Linked DNA regions of Homo sapiens: regions 1, 2, 3 and 4 are each linked to region 5. A link means that fine-mapping ties the variant in region 5 to the plasma level of a protein whose gene starts in the linked region. Region 5 holds a variant in brackets. A gene starts in each other region. All regions are shown on their reverse strands.

Region 1 (4,545 bases), not on the chromosome of region 5:
GCTATCCATTTCACACATACTTCTTGGCTGTTCTAGGTTCTGCAGAAACAGTGGTGAGCAACGCAGACAAGATATCTGTTGCTTTAGAGCTGTCATTGTGGTTTGGGAAGTCAGACAAGAAATGATTTTATAGGTTGTTGAATAGGACTTTTCCTCTGCTCTTGGAATATCTGCTGAAGCCACAAAGATAGAACAATGAGGGCTAAATATTCTTGCATTCTGAAGAGAAGTACTAGACACCTTACTAAAGGCAGAACAGGTTCAACAGCAATCAAACTACATCCCTCAATTCCAGTCTACAAATGAAAGGGATTGAAGAAAGTCACTGAAGCATAACACTGCTGCATTTGTGGGCAGGGCTGAGATTTCCCCTGAGGGAACTCCCCAACTCAAACCAAATGAAGGGAGCTCCCAGAGAGAACCAGTCATCTGCAAGAAGAGGAGGCTCTGTCCCTATAACTGTCCCCCCACTGATGCTGACTATGTTGCTGGATGTTACAGGCACCTCGGTGCATTAAACTACAGCAAGACAGTTCATGGGAGAACCCAACATATGTCTTTAGGAATTGAGGACGTACATAAATGAAGAGACTTGTGTGCACTTCCTGTCTGGAGAATTCTGATCGTGGAGCCTCGCTGGAGTGGCCTGTGTGGCAAGGTGAGAAGTGGGCAGGGTGAGGAGCGGCCAACCCACCATTGTTTTGCCTGGCATAGGTGGGACAGTCCTATGAGAGACAGAGGATGCAGGGGTCTCCGAGAGGTTGGCCAGAGAGTAATTTGCTATGGCAACTCAGGGTGGAGGTCCTGTAGAGAACCTCCCAAAAACCCACATATGTGCCCATGAAAAAGCCAGCGCTTGGCACCTGCCAACCAAGGGTACCTGTCACATAAGACTTTGCTACTTTTCCTCTAACACCTCTCTCCCAGCCTTGACAAAGAGGAGCCACAGCAGAAAAGGGAGGTCAGGAAAACAGACCACACCCCACTCTCACCACTGCAGGATCTCTAGCAAAGGGACAGGGGAGAGGAGGACTATTAAATGGGATGTGATATTGATTAACTTGGATGAGATTTTGATCTGGACAGGAGCAGACTTTTTGTGTCTGAAAATGGGTCTTAATTATATTAATAGAATAGTTCTCGTGTCTGGTAGGGATGACCTCTCAAGCCAAGGACTCTGCCTGAGATGTCATTAAGGGTGGGAAAGGGAAATTTACCATAATATGGTTGAAGGTAGTAGTGGAGCAGTTTCTGGATAGTCCCTCTTTAGGTTCAGCCCATTAAAAAATTCAGTTACACGAGCAAACAAATCAATAACAAGATGATGTCAACTGTTTTATGAAGATGAAACAGGGTGGTGTGTTAGAGTCATGACTGGGGTGAGGGAGGGCTGCTCTAGATTGGAGGTCAGGGATGGCTACTCCAGGAGCTGATATTTAATCTGAGAGGAGCAGTGATGAGGAACTACCCTCTAACATCCTGGAGAGGAACCTTCCAGTAGAGGGAAGGGGGCATTCACTTGGCTTGTTCAAGGAGCAGAGAGAGGGCCAAGGCAGCACAGTGTGGTGGGTAAGGGAGAGCAAGAGGCCAGATGAAATCAGAGCGGGGGCAGCCAGCTAGGGTTTGTAGGCCAAGGCCAGGGGTCGAGGCTTTATTTCAACAGTAGATATTACCTGGGCTTGTCTTTTGTGTGGTGTGGGAGGTTGTGAACTGGTGCCCACATGCCAGCTCCTTCACTCTGCCTCTCTGGGAAATAGGCTGTACAAATGTGCCAGGGGCAGCCCTGTTGATCCAAGCCTTTAGGCTGTAGGGAGGGAGCATGGGTGAGAATGGTGTGCTGATTACTGGGGACACGCAGACAGCGGCAGTCAGCATTCCCACACCCCTGCCCGCCTCCCTGCTAACACAAGATGTGAATGCACACACTGGGTCAATCGGGGTCACCGAATCCCCCTCTGGGAAATTCCCGAGAGAGTGAAGGGCTGGGTGGGATCCCGGGAATGGATTCAGCCAGAGGCGGGAGGCCTAGATTCCACTCCCCTCTTTCACATGCGCTATCTCCTTGAGTGACTTACTCAAGAGGCTCCGTGTCTTTGCCTCGGTGAAAAAGAGGACCCCTTGGCCGGGCGTGGTGGCTCACGCCTTTAATCCCAGCACTTTGGGAGGCCGAGGCGGGCGGATCACCTGAGGTTGGGAGTTCGAGACCAGCCTGACCAACATGGAGAAACCCCGTCTGTACTAAAAAATAAAATAATATACAAAATTAGTCAGACTTGGTGGCGCATGCCTGTAATCCCAGCTACTAGGGAGGCTGAGGCAGGGGAATCGCTTGAACCCGGGAGGCGGAGGTTGCGGGGAGCTGAGATCGCACCATTGCACTCCAGCCTGGGCAACAAGAGCGAAACTCCGTCTCAAAAAAAAGAAAGAAAGAAAGAAAGAAAAGAAAAAGAAAAAGAAAAAGAGGACCCCTCTTCTACCGGCAGCCATCACCGCGCCAGGCTCAGGCGTGACCCTCACGCCAGTGGAAGGGGATTGAGATCCAGAGCGAAGGCGGCGGCGCCAGGGCATTGCAGCCACGGAGCGCCAGGGCCGCCAGCTCCGCCAGGGGGCGCGCCCGGGACCTCCCTGCGCTCCGCGCGCCGCGCCCCGCCCCGCGCCACCCCCGCTCCGGCCGGCCCTGCGGAGGGCGCCCCCAGCGGCCAGGGCGCAAGCGGAGGGGGCGGCGGCCCTGTTCCCCTACGCGGGCCTCGGCGCCCCTCCCGGCTTCCTTCAGACCTGCAAGGCTGCAGCCTGGGTCCCCCGATCCAAAGACGGTCCCTGAGGCGAGGGGCGGGAGAACGATTCGGGGCAGGTCTGCAGTTCGAACTTGCCCAGAGCAGGAGAAAGGCGGCCCAGTGTCCCGGTCGTGGCAGGCGCCATCTGCCCGACCAGCGCCTGGGTCAGCCCCGCGCCGCCCCCTGCTCCGCACGGGTTAATCCCCCTCGCCGCCCGCTCGCCGCCCGCTGGCTTCCCGGTGCCAAAGTGGGTGTTGCTGGAATTCCTCGCTCCCTCTCCGGTAATGAGGGGGCTGAGCTGTCCCTCCGAGGAGGGGGCCTGGTGTGGATAAAAGAGACGAAAAAGCCGGGGGAGGTTTCCAAAAATAAAACCGTCCGGGTCCCCTTCAGACGGCTGCAGGCACAGGGAGGAGGCGCGAAGGTGCAGCAGCCGTGCGAGCCCAGCTGGAGTAGGAGCGCGGACTCGAGGCTCGGGGCGCGCAGCCCTCGTTCCGCCGAGAGCCGGGCCCCCAGTCGGCCGCTTCAGGGCCCCCTAGACTCAGAGAAGCTGGCCGCCGGGCGGGGCCGGGAGAACAGCCCGCGGGCGTCCAGCGTGCCGACCACAAAGCTCTTCGCGGTGCCCGCGCGCACCACTCTCCAGCCGCCCCGCGCCATGAGGCCGCGGACCAAAGCCCGCAGCCCGGGGCGCGCCCTGCGGAACCCCTGGAGAGGCTTCCTGCCGCTCACCCTGGCTCTCTTCGTGGGCGCGGGTCATGCCCAAAGGGACCCCGTAGGGAGATACGAGCCGGCTGGTGGAGACGCGAATCGACTGCGGCGCCCTGGGGGCAGCTACCCGGCAGCGGCTGCAGCCAAGGTGTACAGTCTGTTCCGGGAGCAGGACGCGCCTGTCGCGGGCTTGCAGCCCGTGGAGCGGGCCCAGCCGGGCTGGGGGAGCCCCAGGAGGCCCACCGAGGCGGAGGCCAGGAGGCCGTCCCGCGCGCAGCAGTCGCGGCGTGTCCAGCCACCTGCGCAGACCCGGAGAAGCACTCCCCTGGGCCAGCAGCAACCAGCACCCCGGACCCGGGCCGCGCCGGCTCTCCCACGCCTGGGGACCCCACAGCGGTCTGGGGCTGCGCCCCCAACCCCGCCGCGAGGGCGGCTCACGGGGTGAGCATGGGAGAGGGAAGTTTGGAGGGTACAGAGGGGAGCCAGGGCTCATTTGTGGAGGGGCGTGCAGGCGAGAGGAGAGGGCGCCGCTCTCATACCCTCGTCCCTCTGTCTTTAGTACTTCGGGAAACAGCCCCGAGGTTCCAAAATCGGGATTGGAAGATTTGATCCGCTTTCGAAGAGTTGAAGGCAGATAGATCATCATCCTCATCCTTTCTTACCAACTCTCCCGGAGCCCCGACGTTAAATCCTTTCGCAAGGCGCCTCTCCACTCGCCCGCGTTCCTCCTGCCTGCAACTAACGAGCTCTTGTAGACTCTTGCAGCGCTGCCGGGATCTGAGAGGCAGCGGGGAGAGGGCAGGAGGGTGGGCGCTCCAGGCTCTTGACGCCCAGGGGAGGTTGAGCTGGCTCAGAGCGCGGGTTGGCGGAGGTGTCGGGGGCCCCATGGAGAGAAGGTAGATGCGTCTCCAGGAGGGGAGCCGGCAGCGAAGCTGGTGCGTCGGGACAAGTGTCGTGGGGCGTGGGTCGGCCTGCGCACGCTGAGGGCTGGATGCGGGCGTGGGCGTGAGCTCTGGGTACTTTGGGCGGGAAGCGTGTCCTGATGAGGCTGCGACACAGTGGGCGC
Region 2 (4,588 bases), not on the chromosome of region 5:
TATTGGATATATATTGCTGCATAACAAGTGACTTTAAAACTTAGGGGCCTAAGACAACATTTATTATCCCACAGTTTCTGTGGGTCAGGAGTCCAGGGAGGGTTTACATGGGTCCTCTGGCTTAGGAGGGTCTCTCCCAGGGCTGCAATCAAGATGTCAGCTGGGGCTGCCTTCATCTCAAAGCTCACTGGGGAAGGGTTCTTTTCTCCCTGAATATCGGCTGGAGGCTACTCTCAGGGGCCATATGTGGGCTTCTCCATAAGGCAGCTCACACTTAGCAGCTGCCTTCATGAGAGCAGGAAGGGCAAGAGAGAGAAGGCAAGCAAGAGGGAAATCGGTCTTTTGCAACCACATCCCATCACCTTTGCTGCATTATATTCATTATAATAGAATGTGGCCCCAGGCCAGCCCACACTCTAGGGAAGAGGACTACACAAGGCATGAATACCGGGAGGTGAAAACACAGGGCCATGTTAGAAGTTGTCCAGCACACCCCAGTATGTACCCTGTGCTCTCATCTCACAAAACTCACCCATGTTTCCCAAGGGGGAAAAAATGCTTTATTACCCATGTCTTACATTTGCTCATTAATTCACTCATTCAAAAAGTATTTTATTTCTACTGTGAGCTAGGTAGTGTTGTAAGGGCTAAGGATAGAGCAGTGAGCCAAAGAGACAAAGCCCCTCCCTCGTGGAGCAGACATTCTAGTAGGGAGATAAACAAACGATAAACAACCACACACTTAGTGCGACAGAGGGCAATGAGTTATAGCAGGCGAGGGGCATGAGGGGTGTCAGTGGAGGTGAGGATGTAGGATCTTATGTAGGGTGGCCTGGGAAGGCGTCTCTAAAAGCTTACCTCTGAGCAGAGACATGAAGGATGTGAGGAAGCCACCATGAGGCTATTTAAAAGAAGAGGGTCCTGGGCTGAGGGGGACATCATGTGCAAAGGTAGCTGATGTGTTCAAGGGGCACAAGAAGTTCTGTGTGATGGGAGCGGTGTGAGCAAAGGGGAAAACGCCTGGAGCTGAGGTCAGAAAGGAAACCAGGAGCCAGATCTTCTAAGGTCTTATAGGTCATGAAAAGGGCTTTGACTTTTATGCTAAGATGGGCGCCACTGGAGAATATCCCCTTAAAATGAGCTACTTTACATGCAGGAAAAAAACAAACAAAACTCCTTTCTTTATAATTTCAACATACCATTTTCAGTTCTCCCTTATAAAGAAGTATAATTTGCATTATAATGTAGCTACACATCTGAAATATGTATTCTTAATGGATCTCACATTTTCTAATTACTTACTTTAAAAGATAATATCTGAAAGCTTTGGGTGTTTGAGATGGCTTTTATCTCCAGATAAGGAAAGAGAAATCAAACAAAACCATTTCTGGGAAACCGAGGTCCATTTCTTGCCTAAAGTCAAACAACTTCAAAGAGTCTAGGCTAGAATCCAGGTCCAGGTAGACATCATTAATTTCACAAAGCCAGATGTCACCTGGCAGATCCCTGCCTGAGAGCCTAAAAGGACATGTTGTAAAGCAGGTGTCTAGGATCATAAAATGAGCTGATGCCTATGAATGGCCTAAATCCCAGTGAAGTAGTTACTAAAAAGCAGCCTGGTAACTGATTGGATACAATAAGGGCTAGAAGAGGTCTTGTTGATACTAGCACATTATCCAAACTTCCTGATGTCTGACCCAGGCCTTTGGTAAAGGACATTTTCTCAACATTGCCTTCACTGCATACCCAGCCCCAGGTTTCTCATATGACTGTGCAACCTAGAAGTCACCTTCAGACACCTTGGAGGGTCTATAGTCGGTAAACTTAGATAAGCAAATGAAAATTTACTTACTTGTATCAGGAAAGGAGAGGTCAGCACAGGGGCAGTTAGGAGAGGCTGGGTTGGGGACAGATTATTTAACAAAGGGAAGCACATATAAGAGAAGGTAAAGAAATATTCCACTTGCAAATCGCGGTACCTGTGGATGAGAGACATAGACGAGAGAGTGAGATGGCCTGGTTTGCCCTCTACCTCCTGAGCCTTCTCTGGGCTACAGCTGGGACTAGTACCCAGACCCAGAGTTCATGCTGTGAGTATGATGTTTTTCCAAGGAGGTCAGGGAAGCAGTTGCCCTGGGGAAGGGGCTGTGACCTCTGACACTGAGTGGTTGAAAATAGCAATCACTATAGGAATTCCAAAATGGGTAAGTCTGAGTGTGATTGTGTGCTGTTCATCCTTCCTGACTTAATAGCATAAGTTCTTTGAGAGACAAGTCTATATGTTTTTTATTAAGAGAGATGGGGCCAGGTGCAGTGGCTCACACCTGTAATCCCAGCACTTTGGGAGACTGAAGCAGGAGGATTGCTTGAGCCCAAGAGTTCAAGACCAGCCTGGGCAACATGGTGAGACTCCATCTCTACAAAAAAAATAAATAAATAAAAATAAAAAATTAGCTGGGCGCAGTGGCATGCACCTGTGGTCCCAGCTACTCAGAAAGCTGAGGTAGGAGAATCGCTTGAGCCCAGGAGGTCGAGGCTGCAGTGAGCTATAATCACACCACTGCACTCCAGCCTAGATGACACAGCAGCACCCTGTCTCAAAAAATCAATAAATAAAAATAATAGAGATGGAAGTACTACTGCAGGAATAATGGTTGATGGTACAAAGACAGACACTCAGTGGCTATTGTGACCAGACACCACTACATACTAGTGAGAGATTTTGGTACTCACTGAGGATAAATTATATCCCAAATCTTTAATACTCTTCATGAAAGAGTAAGGAAAAAAATGAATGCAAGGAAATCAGTGATTTCCAGGAAAGTGATAGAAACTATGAGAAATGTCATGAGCCATATTGCTTGAAGTTACTAAATTTAAAAATCACTTTCTTAAGGATATGGATTATTTGAGAAGATGTAGAAACTAATTGTCCTCAAAAGTAAAATCTCACCATTTTCTCCATTTCTCTTTAGTGACTTAGGACACTAATGCTAATCAAGTGTTCTCCTAAAAGGCATCAAAGATGGCCAGGCGAGGTGGCTCACGCCTGTAATCCCAGCACTTTGGGAGGCCAAGAAGGGTGGATTACCTGAGGTCAGAAATTCGAGACTACCCTGGCCAACATGGTGAAACCCCATCTCTACTAAAAATACAAAAATTAGCCTGGCGTGGTGGTGCACACCTGTAATCCCAGCTACTCAGGAAGCTGAGGCAGGAGAATCACTTGAACCTGGGAGGCAGAGTTTGCAGTGAGCCGAGATCGTGCCATTGCACTCTAGCCTGGGCAACAAGAGTAACACTGTCTCAAAAAAAAAAGAAAGAAAGAAAAAGCATCAAAGACACGGGGATAATGTTTTTGAGAAGGAATGAGGGTTAGAAGGTGAGTAAATGGCTTTCCTCTTCTCAGCCGTTCCCTCAGCACAGGAGCCCTTGGTCAATGGAATACAAGTACTCATGGAGAACTCGGTGACTTCATCAGCCTACCCAAACCCCAGCATCCTGATTGCCATGAATCTGGCCGGAGCCTACAACTTGAAGGCCCAGAAGCTCCTGACTTACCAGCTCATGTCCAGCGACAACAACGGTGAGACATCTGAGCCGCTCGCACTCTCCCTGAATCTCACACATCACATACCACCTCCAGATTCCAACTCAGCGTCCTTCCCACCCCAATGCTGCCTCTGACTGTAAATAAACTACCCAAACACCTTTCCTTACATACCTGGAAGGTACCTGGAAAGAAACATGTGTGAAGTCAGAGCATTCATGGAGGAGGTCAGTAAAGCAGGGAGAGCTCTGGACTAGACGTCGAAAGAGCAGCCTTCTGGTTCTGGCTCTGCCACGTCATAACTCTGGGATCTGAGACAAGTCACTGGATACTGCTCAGCCTCACCTTGCAGATGATTGTAGTAACAATAACCCTACTACTACTAATAGCAATGATAATAATAATAAAATCTCTGTTCTGCCTATCTCCCAGGAGCTGCCTGCAGGCTCAAGTTAGATAAAGTTTAAATTATTTTGCAACTGTAAATTTCTGTATATAAATCTATATGAGTATTTTGCTGCTTTTCTAATCAAATACCAGGGATTCTCAAATACCAAATACTAGAGTCATCAAGTTACACAGAGGCCACTAGATTAAATATTCCCTTACGTATTCTTCCATATTTTTTTCTTTGGAAAGACAGATCAAAGAACTGCTCATATTATTAAAAAGTCAAAATGCTCTAGATAAAAAGCAGAGAACTCATCACTGGCTCCTGGAGAGCTGTCCCCTGAGGATGTCTCTGTCTAACCGTTGTGTTCTCTTCTCTGCAGATCTAACCATTGGGCAGCTCGGCCTCACCATCATGGCCCTCACCTCCTCCTGCCGAGACCCTGGGGATAAAGTATCCATTCTACAAAGACAAATGGAGAACTGGGCACCTTCCAGTAAGACCTGACTGGAAGGGAGAAAAGAGTCAGGCATATGGTTTTACCTAAGAATTTTAAACCCAGAAAGGAAAAGGGTGGGGGTGGAGAGAAAGGCAAGTTAGGGAAGAGACAATGTATCCTTCACTCTGGTCCTTCTGATAATCCAGAC
Region 3 (4,497 bases), not on the chromosome of region 5:
AGAGCATTTTTATATTGGAGGAAGAGCATTCCAGGCAGCAGGAACAGCCAAGACCAAGGCTGTGAGGCAGAGTGTCTGGAGCATTTAAGGAACAGCAATGAGGCCAGAGTTTGGAGGCAGATGACATAGACCAGGAGGCCATGGCAAGGACTGTGGCCCTTCCTCTAAGCGAGATGGGGGGCTCAGAGGGTTCTGAATGGAGAAGTGATCAGATCTGACTTGGATTTTGAAAGGATCCCTCTGGCAGGATGGAGAGGGCAAGAGAGACACCACGGGAGAGGCTGTTGGGGAAATCTAGATTGGCGTTGCTAGCCACCTGGGCCGGGGGTGGGTGGCAAAGAAGGTGTCCAGGAGTGGTCAGATTCTGGATCTCTTTTGAAAGTGAAGCCAACAGGATTTGCTGAGAGACTGGATGTGGGCTGTGGGAGAAAGAGAGGAGTCAAGCATGACCTCAAGGTTTGGGGCCTGAGCCAACAGAAGGATGAACTCCTCCATCTTGACTTTTGTCTCCTGAGAAGGGGAGTCATTCTGTGTGCTTCACATGTATAGACCTTGTAAGAAGGAACTTCCAGGCATATGGCAAGAACTTCCTAAGCCCTGGTTCTCGAGGGGCTGGCTGGGTCTGCAGGGCCAGCCTAGGCACTGTAAGGTGGTTTGCAAAAACGCACCCTGGTCTCCACCCACCACATATGCTCAGAAGACAGGAACATTTGCTTCAGGCTCCACAGCTGACAAAGCACATTTGCAAACACTGAGCGCTGTGACGCAATATCTCAGCCCTGCTGAGCTAAAAATCCTGGACTCATTGCCCTCATGTTGCAACTGAGAAAAAAGGAGACCCAGAGAGGGCCAGTGACTCCCCTGCAGTCACAAAGTCGATCCATCTGTGGCAGAGGGGGAAGCTGCATCAGGGCAGTTTACTGAAGGGCGGAACCTCTCCCCCACCTCCCCACACTGTTTCTAACTTCTGCTAAGAGTGCAGCGGGTGTGCATGGGTTAATCCGCCAGCCAGCTCCCCAGAGGCCATCCTGGATGATGGGCTCAGTGCACATGCCTCCAGAGGCCTCCAGGAAGGGCGGGAAGAGGACCCTGGCCAGGCCGAAACAGCAGGCCCCGGGGGCAGGGAGGGCTCCACACACGTGATGCCTGTGTCACATATACACATATATGTCACTGTGTGCCCCATGCCCATACATGGCCTTGCATGGGTCCCCTCACAGCCTTCCACATCCTGCGTGCAGCCCAGCCCCCACCCAGCCCCCTAAACCACGCACCCTGCCTTCCTGACGCAGGAGCCCAGAGAGGCATTTCCTGTTTAGGGGCTGCCTCCTCCCCCTCTAAGCCCAGGTTCCCAGGGCCCCAGGCTGAGCTGGGGTGAGGGGAGGGCAGCCCCTGGCCCCCTCACTCCCCCAACACCCCCACACGCTGGCCCAGCTGGAACCAGAAAGCTTGAGTATAGGGGGAGAGGCTGACGCAGGGGCTCAGTAAATAAATGAGAGGCTGAGGATGCCTGTGCCTGGGTGACCAAGCTGTTTCCATTCAGGCCGAATCGGAGGTCTTCATATGTCAGGCCATGTAGAATGCCACACCATTTTTGTATGTGCACCTAGGGTCTCAGCATGTCAGAATGTGTGTACGTGTGGCAAGGGAGTCATCTGCAAGCCAGCATAGGTCCACGGTGAGGTGAAGGGACAAACAGCTTGGCAGAGAGTGCACTCTTGCATGGGGTTGGGGGTGGGGGAGGCGCATGCGCGCGTCTGTGGGGCAAGAAAGGAGTGGGCATGAGGGTGTTCCCGTGCATGGCGAGCAGCTGGGCTGAGACTGCTCCCGGGTGTGATGGGGCTGCTGTGTCCAGATTTGGGTCTCTGAGTCTCTGGGAAGCGACCTCACCCCACAGCCCCGAGCCCCAACTTGAGGGTCACAGAGCTCGGCAGGCAGGCTTTTCCCACCCCCTGACTCTCAGCCCCATGGGGCCTGGGGCAGCCGTCAACTGCGCCTTCTCCCCTCCTCCGCCCCCAACCTTAGAGCCCCCCACCCCACTGCTTCCTGCTCTAGCGGCCCCCGGGGAAGAGGGAGCAGGGAGCTGGCAGCCGCCCCAGCCCACTCCTTACAAGGCCTGAGCCCGGCCCCAGGCCCGCCCCCGGCCCGCCCGCAGGAGGCCCCAGGCCCTCCCCCTGTCAAGAGCTGCCGCCAGCCCGGGGCCGGACCAGTCCGGGGGCATCGCGATGCTGCTGCGCCTGTTGCTGGCCTGGGCGGCCGCAGGGCCCACACTGGGCCAGGACCCCTGGGCTGCTGAGCCCCGTGCCGCCTGCGGCCCCAGCAGCTGCTACGCTCTCTTCCCACGGCGCCGCACCTTCCTGGAGGCCTGGCGGGCCTGCCGCGAGCTGGGGGGCGACCTGGCCACTCCTCGGACCCCCGAGGAGGCCCAGCGTGTGGACAGCCTGGTGGGTGCGGGCCCAGCCAGCCGGCTGCTGTGGATCGGGCTGCAGCGGCAGGCCCGGCAATGCCAGCTGCAGCGCCCACTGCGCGGCTTCACGTGGACCACAGGGGACCAGGACACGGCTTTCACCAACTGGGCCCAGCCAGCCTCTGGAGGCCCCTGCCCGGCCCAGCGCTGTGTGGCCCTGGAGGCAAGTGGCGAGCACCGCTGGCTGGAGGGCTCGTGCACGCTGGCTGTCGACGGCTACCTGTGCCAGTTTGGCTTCGAGGGCGCCTGCCCGGCGCTGCAAGATGAGGCGGGCCAGGCCGGCCCAGCCGTGTATACCACGCCCTTCCACCTGGTCTCCACAGAGTTTGAGTGGCTGCCCTTCGGCTCTGTGGCCGCTGTGCAGTGCCAGGCTGGCAGGGGAGCCTCTCTGCTCTGCGTGAAGCAGCCTGAGGGAGGTGTGGGCTGGTCACGGGCTGGGCCCCTGTGCCTGGGGACTGGCTGCAGCCCTGACAACGGGGGCTGCGAACACGAATGTGTGGAGGAGGTGGATGGTCACGTGTCCTGCCGCTGCACTGAGGGCTTCCGGCTGGCAGCAGACGGGCGCAGTTGCGAGGACCCCTGTGCCCAGGCTCCGTGCGAGCAGCAGTGTGAGCCCGGTGGGCCACAAGGCTACAGCTGCCACTGTCGCCTGGGTTTCCGGCCAGCGGAGGATGATCCGCACCGCTGTGTGGACACAGATGAGTGCCAGATTGCCGGTGTGTGCCAGCAGATGTGTGTCAACTACGTTGGTGGCTTCGAGTGTTATTGTAGCGAGGGACATGAGCTGGAGGCTGATGGCATCAGCTGCAGCCCTGCAGGGGCCATGGGTGCCCAGGCTTCCCAGGACCTCGGAGATGAGTTGCTGGATGACGGGGAGGATGAGGAAGATGAAGACGAGGCCTGGAAGGCCTTCAACGGTGGCTGGACGGAGATGCCTGGGATCCTGTGGATGGAGCCTACGCAGCCGCCTGACTTTGCCCTGGCCTATAGACCGAGCTTCCCAGAGGACAGAGAGCCACAGATACCCTACCCGGAGCCCACCTGGCCACCCCCGCTCAGTGCCCCCAGGGTCCCCTACCACTCCTCAGTGCTCTCCGTCACCCGGCCTGTGGTGGTCTCTGCCACGCATCCCACACTGCCTTCTGCCCACCAGCCTCCTGTGATCCCTGCCACACACCCAGCTTTGTCCCGTGACCACCAGATCCCCGTGATCGCAGCCAACTATCCAGATCTGCCTTCTGCCTACCAACCCGGTATTCTCTCTGTCTCTCATTCAGCACAGCCTCCTGCCCACCAGCCCCCTATGATCTCAACCAAATATCCGGAGCTCTTCCCTGCCCACCAGTCCCCCATGTTTCCAGACACCCGGGTCGCTGGCACCCAGACCACCACTCATTTGCCTGGAATCCCACCTAACCATGCCCCTCTGGTCACCACCCTCGGTGCCCAGCTACCCCCTCAAGCCCCAGATGCCCTTGTCCTCAGAACCCAGGCCACCCAGCTTCCCATTATCCCAACTGCCCAGCCCTCTCTGACCACCACCTCCAGGTCCCCTGTGTCTCCTGCCCATCAAATCTCTGTGCCTGCTGCCACCCAGCCCGCAGCCCTCCCCACCCTCCTGCCCTCTCAGAGCCCCACTAACCAGACCTCACCCATCAGCCCTACACATCCCCATTCCAAAGCCCCCCAAATCCCAAGGGAAGATGGCCCCAGTCCCAAGTTGGCCCTGTGGCTGCCCTCACCAGCTCCCACAGCAGCCCCAACAGCCCTGGGGGAGGCTGGTCTTGCCGAGCACAGCCAGAGGGATGACCGGTGGCTGCTGGTGGCACTCCTGGTGCCAACGTGTGTCTTTTTGGTGGTCCTGCTTGCACTGGGCATCGTGTACTGCACCCGCTGTGGCCCCCATGCACCCAACAAGCGCATCACTGACTGCTATCGCTGGGTCATCCATGCTGGGAGCAAGAGCCCAACAGAACCCATGCCCCCCAGGGGCAGCCTCACAGGGGTGCAGACCTGCAGAACCAGCGTGT
Region 4 (4,588 bases), not on the chromosome of region 5:
TGTGCGCTGGAGCCGCAGCATCCCTTTTCCACTGAGAGCCTCAGTTTCCTCATCTGGAAGCAGGGACACAGTTGGCCAACACATACGCTTCCCAAAGTTGTCAAGAGACCAAGTGAATGTTTTTTGTAAACTGGGAAGCCCCAGCAGAGATGCGCCAGCCGGGTTATTACCGCTGTGCTGGTTGCCATTATTTTCCAGGCCTGTGTTTCTCTGCCCAGCTAGCAACAAGGCAGGGGGAGGCTCCCAGCTAATCCAGACTTGAATCTCAGCTGTGGGTGGGAGCACCCTGTCTGGAGGCTCCACAGACATCTGTGTAGGTGGGGAGCAGGGAAGATGGGGAGGGGGTGGGGGGGGGAGATGGGGCCAGCAGAGATCTTCACCCAGATTTTTGATTCATAGAGCAAAAAGCCTTCTGTCTTATTTTTTCATTCCTGAAAAGAAAGCTCTTTTCCTCCAAACACAGTCTTCCAAGCAGCACCCCCACCCCCAGCCCCATAGCTTGTCAGTAATTAGCCCCTAATGAGGACCAGGTGTCCTACCGACTTGAGGAGAAGGAAAAACAAGGGACAGCCGGGCGCGGTGGCTCACACCTGTAATCCCAGCACTTTGGGAGGCTGAGGCGGGCAGATCACGAGGTCAGGAGTTCAAGACCAGCCTGGTCAACATGGTGAAACCCCATCTCTACTAAAAATACAAAAATTAGCCAGGCATGGTGGTGCACACCTGCAATCCCAGCTACTCAGGAGGCTGAGGCAGGAGAATCGCTTGAACCCGGGAGGCAGAGGTTGCAGTGAGCCGAGATCGCGCCATTACACTCCAGCCTGGGCAACAGAGCGAGACTCTGTCTCAAAAAAAAAAAAAAAAAAAACAAGGGACAAATTGTGGAATCAATGCCTTTACCGCCACTGAGGCCAGCCTAGCACAGCCTCCATCCCAGGCCTCCTAGGGCACCTGGATGGAAGCTCTTAGGTTTGCCAAAATCCCTACAGAACAGCAGCAATTGGTTTCTTAGTCAACTACAGCAGGCATTTATTGTACACCTACTGTATGCAGCAGCCTCTGGAGGAGAAAGTTCAAGCTTTACAACAAGGGAGGTGATATGTGTAAAGCTGTATGTAAACCATGAATCACAGGGAATGTGCAGGATGACAGAGACGGAGGAGAAAGGATAAGCATTTATTGAGCACCTACCGTATGCCAGGCCCTGGGCTAGGGACTTGAGGTACATTAAAGCATTTAATCCTCATTAACCCAATTTTACAAATGAGGAAACTGCCACAGAGAGGTGAGGGGACTTGTTCAAGGTTTGACAACCAAGTAAGGGAGCTGGGATTTGAACCCAGGTCTCTCTGGTTTCAAGACCAATACTCATAACCCCCACATGGACCAGGCACCATCACACCTGAGCACTGCACTTAGGGTCAAAGACCTGGCCCCACATCTCAGCAGCTATGTAGACTAGCTCCAGTCCCTTAATCTCTCTCAGCCTCAGTTTCTTCATCTGCAAAACAGGTCTCAGTTTCGTTGCAAAGTATGAAGTGCTGGGCTGTTACTGGTCAAAGGGAAGAGCTGGGAAGAGGGTGCAAGGTGGGGTTGGGCTGGAGATGGGCTGGAGCAGATAGATGGAGGGACCTGAATGGAGGAAGTAAACCAAGGCCCGGTAACATTGGGACTGGACAGAGAACACGCAGATCCTCTAGGCACCGGAAGCTAAGTAACATTGCCCTTTCTCCTCCTGTTTGGGACTAGGCTGATGTTGCTGCCTGGAAGGGAGCCAGCAGAAGGGCCCCAGCCTGAAGCTGTTAGGTAGAAGCCAAATCCAGGGCCAGATTTCCAGGAGGCAGCCTCGGGAAGTTGAAACACCCGGATTCAGGGGTCAGGAGGCCTGGGCTTCTGGCACCAAACGGCCAGGGACCTACTTTCCACCTGGAGTCTTGTAAGAGCCACTTTCAGCTTGAGCTGCACTTTCGTCCTCCATGAAATGGGGGAGGGGATGCTCCTCACCCACCTTGCAAGGTTATTTTGAGGCAAATGTCATGGCGGGACTGAGAATTCTTCTGCCCTGCGAGGAAATCCAGACATCTCTCCCTTACAGACAGGGAGACTGAGGTGAGGCCCTTCCAGGCAGAGAAGGTCACTGTTGCAGCCATGGGCAGTGCCCCACAGGACCTCGGGTGGTGCCTCTGGAGTCTGGAGAAGTTCCTAGGGGACCTCCGAGGCAAAGCAGCCCAAAAGCCGCCTGTGAGGGTGGCTGGTGTCTGTCCTTCCTCCTAAGGCTGGAGTGTGCCTGTGGAGGGGTCTCCTGAACTCCCGCAAAGGCAGAAAGGAGGGAAGTAGGGGCTGGGACAGTTCATGCCTCCTCCCTGAGGGGGTCTCCCGGGCTCGGCTCTTGGGGCCAGAGTTCAGGGTGTCTGGGCCTCTCTATGACTTTGTTCTAAGTCTTTAGGGTGGGGCTGGGGTCTGGCCCAGCTGCAAGGGCCCCCTCACCCCTGCCCCAGAGAGGAACAGCCCCGCACGGGCCCTTTAAGAAGGTTGAGGGTGGGGGCAGGTGGGGGAGTCCAAGCCTGAAACCCGAGCGGGCGCGCGGGTCTGCGCCTGCCCCGCCCCCGGAGTTAAGTGCGCGGACACCCGGAGCCGGCCCGCGCCCAGGAGCAGAGCCGCGCTCGCTCCACTCAGCTCCCAGCTCCCAGGACTCCGCTGGCTCCTCGCAAGTCCTGCCGCCCAGCCCGCCGGGATGCAGTCCGGGCCGCGGCCCCCACTTCCAGCCCCCGGCCTGGCCTTGGCTTTGACCCTGACTATGTTGGCCAGACTTGCATCCGCGGGTGAGTGAGGGGCCTGAGACCCCGACCCAGCCTGGCGGAACTAGAGGGGTTCCTCCGGGAGGGAAAAGGGACAGGAGGAGCCAGAAGTGGCCCCCAGATCGGGAGTCAAGCAGGCTGCGCTTCTCCCACCACTAGCTGGGGTCGCCAGGGGTTCAATCCTGGGGCGGACACGGGACCCCGCTATCTCAGGTTATGGGGTTTCTAGCTAGCCAAGGCTGTCCAGTTAGGGGCGGGAGCAGGCGCCCCAGGCATGGATTGCCTAGGGCGTGGCTTTGCCCGTTTGGATTGTCTGAGACACCAGTGGGGCCACCCCAATGCTGGCCGAGCTTTGTTTGCCAGGCAAGTTTGGGGTGAGTATGTTGGGGTCCAAAGGGACCCGGCGACAGTGAGAAGTGGGTCCTCCAGCTTCAGATGCCCTGGGCCAGGAATGGGGAGTGCTACAAGGTGGGAAACGAGGAATGAGCCACCCTGCCCTCCCCTGTGAGGAGCACCCCCACACCCCTCCAGCTGCCCCCCAGCTCTGCCCCTTCTTTCCTCCCCTTGCTTCCTTGCAGATCCGTCTATCTGCCACCTCCCCTCTTCATTCTCTCCTCTCCCTCCTCCTGTTGGTGACAGGCAGGACCCCCCACCCACTACCCACTCTCAGCCTCCTAGAGGGAGAGCTGGTGCCCCTCAGCGGGGCTTGTCCTACAGATAGCTCTGGACCACCCCCTGCCACACCTCCTCATCCCAGCACTGATGCCTGACCCAGCAGAGGCTGAATGGAAGTTCGCTTTCCGAGAAGTGCTGGGATATATCCCCTCTCTGTCCCGATGCCAGAAACCCCAACATGACAGCATTCTTCCTTCAGCGAAGGCAGCTCTAGTTATGCCATAAGAACTGTGGCCTTAGGGCCCATCCATCATCACTACCCACGTGTGATTCAGTGCTTCAGCTACACCTTCGAGATCATTCCCAAGAGCAACATGGAGCAAAGGCAGGGCCTGAGCCTCCTTCACAAGGGCCCAGGCCACACCCTTCTCTCCTTCAGATGGAGAAGCCAGCTCTAAAAGAGGGCATCACATGGTTCCCAGAAGGGAAGTGAGTCAAGGGAGGACCCCCGCGGGGTGAATCAGGGCTGGATCTCCAGGCTCCCTGTTCCTGCAGGGACCAGATCCCCTAAGATCTCAGGGCCTGAGGGATGGGCTGGGCCGCCAGGGAGATGGGAAGGGAGCATCCAAGGTGACCAGGGTGGTCAGCTCATTCAGGCCCCAGCCTCCAGCCAAGGAGGGATTCCAGTACCCCCACCTCCTTGGGCTTCAACTGAGAGCCATTCTCAAATACCTTCTTAGCCCTGACAGCATGCAGGCATGGTGCTAGGCTCGCAGGGGCACGGGAAATTGAGAGGCTGAACTGAGACTCATTCAGGAGGCAGAAAGGCAAATTAAATCTCAAACAGCAAAAATCTGGATGAAAAGTACAGAGGGGAGAAAAGCAGGGGCAAGCTGGGGCAGGACACAGGGTGGGCCTCAAACCAAGCCTTGGTGGATGGGAAGGGAGTCAGTCCTCCAGGCAGGGGCGCTGACTCAGAGGCACCAAGGTGGGCGTAAGCAGAGGGGTGTTGAGACAGGAAGGCCAGCAGCCTGGCTGGGAGGCGTATTTCGAGCACAGGCCAGGGAGAACCACTGGGCTGGGGCACAGAAGCCTTAAATGGCAAAATGAAGCCCACGGCCTTATGCCCTGTTGGCAAAGGAGATGCCACAAGGGTTTTAGGGCAAGAGAGCAGC
Region 5 (4,588 bases):
GCGCTGGGGTTTGGGAGTGCAGACCCTCCCCCAACCTCAGGTGCATACCTATATTTCAAAGGCCCATCTTCAGTCAGAGCTCGCCCTGTAGCCTCTCTGTCTGTGCCCTCCCCTCCCTTGCTCTCTCCCACTAGTCCCTTCCCTCTTGGGAATGTCAAAGTGCAAGATGCAGAAACCTGGGCGAACAACACAGCCTAAAGACCGGCTCTGGCTGGCGGCCCAGGAGGTTCTCCCACCCCACTCCACTCCGGGGAGTCAAAGGCCAGGTCAGGAGAAGGTCAGGGCTGAGGGGCTCCCTCAGTCGACTGGTGAGGCCAGCTCAGTGCAGGAGGCTGGGGAGAGGCTGGAGAGTGGAGGACGGACGGATGCTGGCTCATGGATGGACGGGGGCAGGCTGTTCAGCAGGCAGGTACAGTGTTCACAGTGCAATGGCTTCCTTCATGAGGGGAGCCTCTGCTTGGCCTCCTGGAGAAGCTCTGGCAGGTGCTGGAAGGAGGAGGGGCAGAGGCCAGTGCTTGATCCCCCTCTTGGCATCACTGGCAGGTCAGGCAGGTCCTGAGGGCAGGGCTGGCCTCCCCTCTGCGCCTGGCAACCAGCACAGGGCACTTAGGTGAGCCGAGGGTGTAGACCCTTCAGGCTGTCAGTGCAGACCAGCAGGTCCAGAGGCCTCCTCTTCCCGTCTCTCAGGCTGCACACCTTTACGGGAAATCAGGCCGACGCTGTCCCGCCCCACGAACTTCAGGCTCCTCTCTCTGGAGACAGGTCCATGCCTGTCCAGGCTGGGATACCTTGGCACCAGGCAGGCCCTCTGGGTGCAGGGTTCTTTCACTCCTCAGCGTCCACCCTGCTTTCCCACAAACCACAGGCCGGTGGGTCCCTGGCCTGGGTTCCGGCATGGAAGGGAGTGAGAGGAGGGTGCAGCCCCTGAGGGAAGAGGGTCCTGAGCCGGGCTCACCAGCCTTCCTCAAGCACATGGGAGCCTCCAGGGCTCACAATAAATAGTGGCAGCATGGGGAGCATCCTCTGGCCTCTCTCATTCAGTCAAGGGTCTGCGGGTTGAGACAGAGGGGCCCCAGCCTGGCTGCTCTGGTCCAGTCCTGGCAGGCAGGAGCTCTGGTGGAGGGCAGACCACATTCCAGGAGGATGGCCAGGGAGGGGTGGTGGTGGACGCCCCATAATGTCTCCTCCCACGGAGAGACTGTTCTGTGCGTCCAGCTGTGGGAGAGAAGGAAAGGCTAGTCAGCAGAGTGGGAATGCGGGGAGGGTCGTTGAGGACATGGATTGGGAGGTGTGGCATTCCTGTGGGCTGCTGGCGGTGCTGCAGGCAGGACTTCCTTTCCTCCCTTCCCTGGCCTTTCCAGACACCACAGAGAGACCAGGCAGCTTTCTCTGGCACCAGCCCAGGCCTCTGGCCCAACTGGCCTCACCTCCTACCTCCTCCTGGGGAATCAGGGCCTCAGTGGAAGATAACGGGGCCCGGGAGAGGTCTGGGCAGGGCTGGGAAGAGGGGTTACTGCTCAAGCAGAGGGCTCTGACAAGGAGCGAAGCGGGCACTTGAATGTCTTTGGACCCCTCCTCAGGCGAGGTCATCTCATTGGCCTTGGTCCAGTGAACAAAGGGTGATTCCTGCTAACACTAGCAAAGAAGAATCTTTCATTTCATCAGAGGGGCATCACATATGATGTTCAAGACAGTAGGGCAGAGCTAGCTGAAGAGGAACAACTTGGGCCAGAGAGGAAAAGTCTAGAGGCAGTGCCAGGACAAGGAAATTCCCACACTGTCATTTGGCACGCGACCCCTAAGCAACCCAGCCCCTCCTGGATGGGCCGAGGGCCTTGCCTCCCGCATCATCCATGGGAGTCAGGGCCTTGTCCTCTCGCCTTCCACCCCCATCCTTGTCCTCTTGCCCAGCATCCTCAGGACG[C/T]TTTGTTCCCAGAGCAGAAATCCCCTGGACCCCATCCAACAGTTTGACTTTGGACCTTGTGTGGAGCCTCCCTCCCTAACATCCATAGGCCCTACTGGGTAAGGAGGGAAGATGGAACCACAGCCTCTGGCTCCCTGCCCATTCCCATGCTCTAGAGGGAAAGAAGGGGAACCATAAACTGGACATGAGCCATGCTGGGTACAGCCAGGCCACAGGCCCAGCTAGGGCCCAGGAGGGGAGAAGGACCCAGTGAGCGAGTTCCAGCCTGCTGCCCCATCTTCTAGCTGCTTAGGGCTGAGGTGCTGGTGTCTGCATTTTCTGTGGCTCTGAGTCCCTATCTCAGTCTCTGCCTCTATGTTTCTCTCTCTCACTTCTCAAATCACAGCAGCAGTCACTCTAGGGGCTGGCACTCAATCTCTCCAAGGCCACTGGTGCCTGGCCTGGAGACCACCTTAGGGCTGGACCTGCCGGGCCAAGTGGGATCTGGATGTAGCCCCTGCCCTGGATTCCCTCTCCAAGTGAAATCTTGAGGGGGAAGAGGAAAGCTTGGGACGGGCCTGAGAATAAGCAAGTGGGGAAAGGAGGGTGGGCGTGTAGAGGGGTGGGACAGAGGGCCAAGACCACGGCGAGGGGTTTGGGGACAGACGACCCGTGGGAAGGGTGTTGTGGCACTGAGCCACCAGCAACCAGTTCTGAGGAGGCCTGGGTCATTTCACAGTCTTGCCAGTGCCCCAGCTGACCCACTCACCCATCTTAGCCCACCCCACTGACAAGGTAGACCCCAGGATTCCAGATATGTTGTTACTGCTGGTTCTTGTCTAAATAGGTTCCCCTGGTTTTGAGCATTTGCCAAATTCCCTATCTCTCTAGAAGGGGCCCAGACCTGTCACTCCACACATGGGAGAGCCCTGCGGCACTGGCTTGCACTTGGTAAAGGATGTGACTGGAAACTTGACTGGGTCACCCCAGCTAGTCAGCCAACCAGCCAATTAGTCAGGCAATCAGCTAGTCAGTTGCTCAATGGGCTCCCCAAGCAACAGCTGGTCAGTTAGGCAGTTACCAAGATAGTTGGTTGGTTAGTCATTCACCCAGCCAGCTGGTCAGCCAGTCAGTCAGAGTCAGTCAGTTAGCTGGTTAACTGGTCAGCTAGAGGCTGGTCAGTTAGAGACAGCTGGCCAGGGTCAGTCCGTGAGTCAGCCCTGAAGCCAGTCAGTCAACATTTATTGCATGTTTGGCAAATGTGGAGAGGCCCTCTCTTAGTAGAACCCAGGATGGAAAAAGAAACACAAAAAAAAGTGGAAGACAGTCCCTGCCCTCAAGGGGCTTACAATCTTAGGGATGTGGAATGTACAATACATATAAAATAAGATTTTAAAAAATATGAAAACAACATCCAAATAAGTGCAAATTGATATACTATTAGCCAAATACAAAAGAGCAGGAGGAGCATGACTGAAAAGAGCAGTCAGAAGGTTGTGGAGAAGCCAGGAAGGCTTCCTGATGGGCTGGCTGTGGGCTTGGGTGGGAGGGGGAAGAGGTGGGCCAGCTGGGGTTGGCGGGGGGCAGGGGTGAGGAACAATAGGGTCACAGCTACATCAACAACATGGGCAAAGACAACAGCAGGCACTCATCAATGTGCAGGAGGCACAACTGGGAGGGCTACGGAGATGACAGAATTAGGATTTCACACAACTTCAGTAGGTTCAGGTGATGGGCAGAAACCAACAAGGTGGCTTTAACAAAGGTGAACATAAACTGCACTTTGGTTAAAAAAGTTAAGTTGTCCAAGTACAGGGTAGAGATGGTCTGGCTTGACAGAAGTTTATGGGAAATGGAACTAGGGGTTTTAATAGACCACAGGCTCAACATATGACAACAGTATGATGCAGTTGTTAAGAAAAAAACTAATGCAATCTTAATCTGCACAAATAGAAGAATACTGTCCATATCAAGGAAGGTAACAGTCCCACTGTACTCTCTCTGAGCTGGTCAGACAACATCTGGAGTACTGTGTCCGGGGCTGGGCGTCACATTTTCAGAGGGACATTGACAAACGAGTGTGTCCAGGATGGTGAGGGGTCTGAAAACCATATCATATAAGGAACGTTTGAGGGACTTGGCCATACTTAGCTTAGAGAATTCTCAAAGGGGACATGGATACCTGACTTGAAATATCTGAGGGTTTTCATGAGAACAGGAGGGAGGAGCAGTATGGAGGGGGCAGGGAAGCCAGTTTTGCCTCGCATGAGGAAGACGTTTCTCCCAGTCTGACTGGAAGATGGCATGGGCTGTGGCTAGGCAGGGAGCTGGGCTGGATCTGGGAGTGTGTGACAGCCAGCTGGCTGGCTCCCTGTTGGGGACATGGAGAGGGGCAGTCCCTTTGGGGTGGGAACCAGGGCCAAATGACCCCTGAGAGCCCTTCCAAGACTCAGGTTCTATGTCAACATGATCCTAAAAGCAAGGAAGCAGAACTGACCTCAGCTGGGGAGGAGGGTTAACTGGTGCGGGGGTGGCGATCTGGCAAGCAGCTGCTGTCGAAGGGGCTTGGCAGCCAAGCCAAGAATATAGGGCTTGCAGTGGCTGCCACACAGAGCTACTGAAGATTCTCCAGGAGGGTAAAGACCTTATAAAGGCCACATTTGAAAAAGGGGGGTTTAGTTGCTC

Alleles and levels. Positions count from the first base shown, and alleles are read on the strand shown. Strength reflects both the effect of a copy and how common the allele is.
With allele T in place of C in region 5, the plasma level of the protein whose gene starts at base 3,134 in region 1 is lower (weak association).
For the plasma level of the protein whose gene starts at base 1,966 in region 2, allele C in region 5 goes with a higher level than allele T (weak association).
For the plasma level of the protein whose gene starts at base 2,209 in region 3, allele T in region 5 goes with a lower level than allele C (weak association).
With allele T in place of C in region 5, the plasma level of the protein whose gene starts at base 2,642 in region 4 is lower (weak association).

What was found. PIP is the chance, under the fine-mapping model, that this variant and not a neighbour inherited with it causes the effect. Protein levels are from antibody-based Olink assays in UK Biobank. Linkage for the fine-mapping came from a reference panel and not from the study's own genotypes, which makes the PIPs less certain.
Region 1: it holds the start of LTBP2, and the variant in region 5 is fine-mapped to the plasma level of the LTBP2 protein (UK Biobank, PIP above 0.99).
Region 2: it holds the start of CBLIF, and the variant in region 5 is fine-mapped to the plasma level of the CBLIF protein (UK Biobank, PIP above 0.99).
Region 3: it holds the start of CD248, and the variant in region 5 is fine-mapped to the plasma level of the CD248 protein (UK Biobank, PIP above 0.99).
Region 4: CSPG4 starts here. The variant in region 5 is fine-mapped to the plasma level of the CSPG4 protein (UK Biobank, PIP above 0.99).

What each region holds. Positions count from the first base shown.
Region 1 is chr14:74,610,826-74,615,370 of GRCh38, reverse strand. LTBP2 (latent transforming growth factor beta binding protein 2) reads left to right here and starts at 3,134. Exons shown (of 36, transcript NM_000428.3): 1 at 3,134-3,920. The coding sequence starts at 3,427. LOC101928352 (a long non-coding RNA gene) reads right to left here and starts at 2,186. Exons shown (of 2, transcript XR_944029.4): 1 at 2,076-2,186; 2 at 1,323-1,804. RefSeq lists a silencer at 2,504-2,823 and an enhancer at 2,451-3,078.
Region 2 is chr11:59,842,877-59,847,464 of GRCh38, reverse strand. It overlaps CBLIF (cobalamin binding intrinsic factor), which reads left to right and starts at 1,966. Exons shown (of 9, transcript NM_005142.3): 1 at 1,966-2,090; 2 at 3,410-3,586; 3 at 4,324-4,437. The coding sequence starts at 2,012.
Region 3 is chr11:66,314,756-66,319,252 of GRCh38, reverse strand. It overlaps CD248 (CD248 molecule), which reads left to right and starts at 2,209. Exons shown (of 1, transcript NM_020404.3): 1 at 2,209-4,497. The coding sequence starts at 2,226. RefSeq lists enhancers at 1-207, 2,764-3,460 and a silencer at 2,011-2,280.
Region 4 is chr15:75,710,902-75,715,489 of GRCh38, reverse strand. CSPG4 (chondroitin sulfate proteoglycan 4) reads left to right here and starts at 2,642. Exons shown (of 10, transcript NM_001897.5): 1 at 2,642-2,822. The coding sequence starts at 2,735.
Region 5 is chr1:109,925,479-109,930,066 of GRCh38, reverse strand. CSF1 (colony stimulating factor 1) reads right to left here. Exons shown (of 9, transcript NM_000757.6): 9 at 1-1,215. Among named protein-coding and RNA genes, the nearest start is that of CSF1, 17 kb to the right of the region's middle. The variant C/T (reference allele first, on the strand shown) is at 1,925.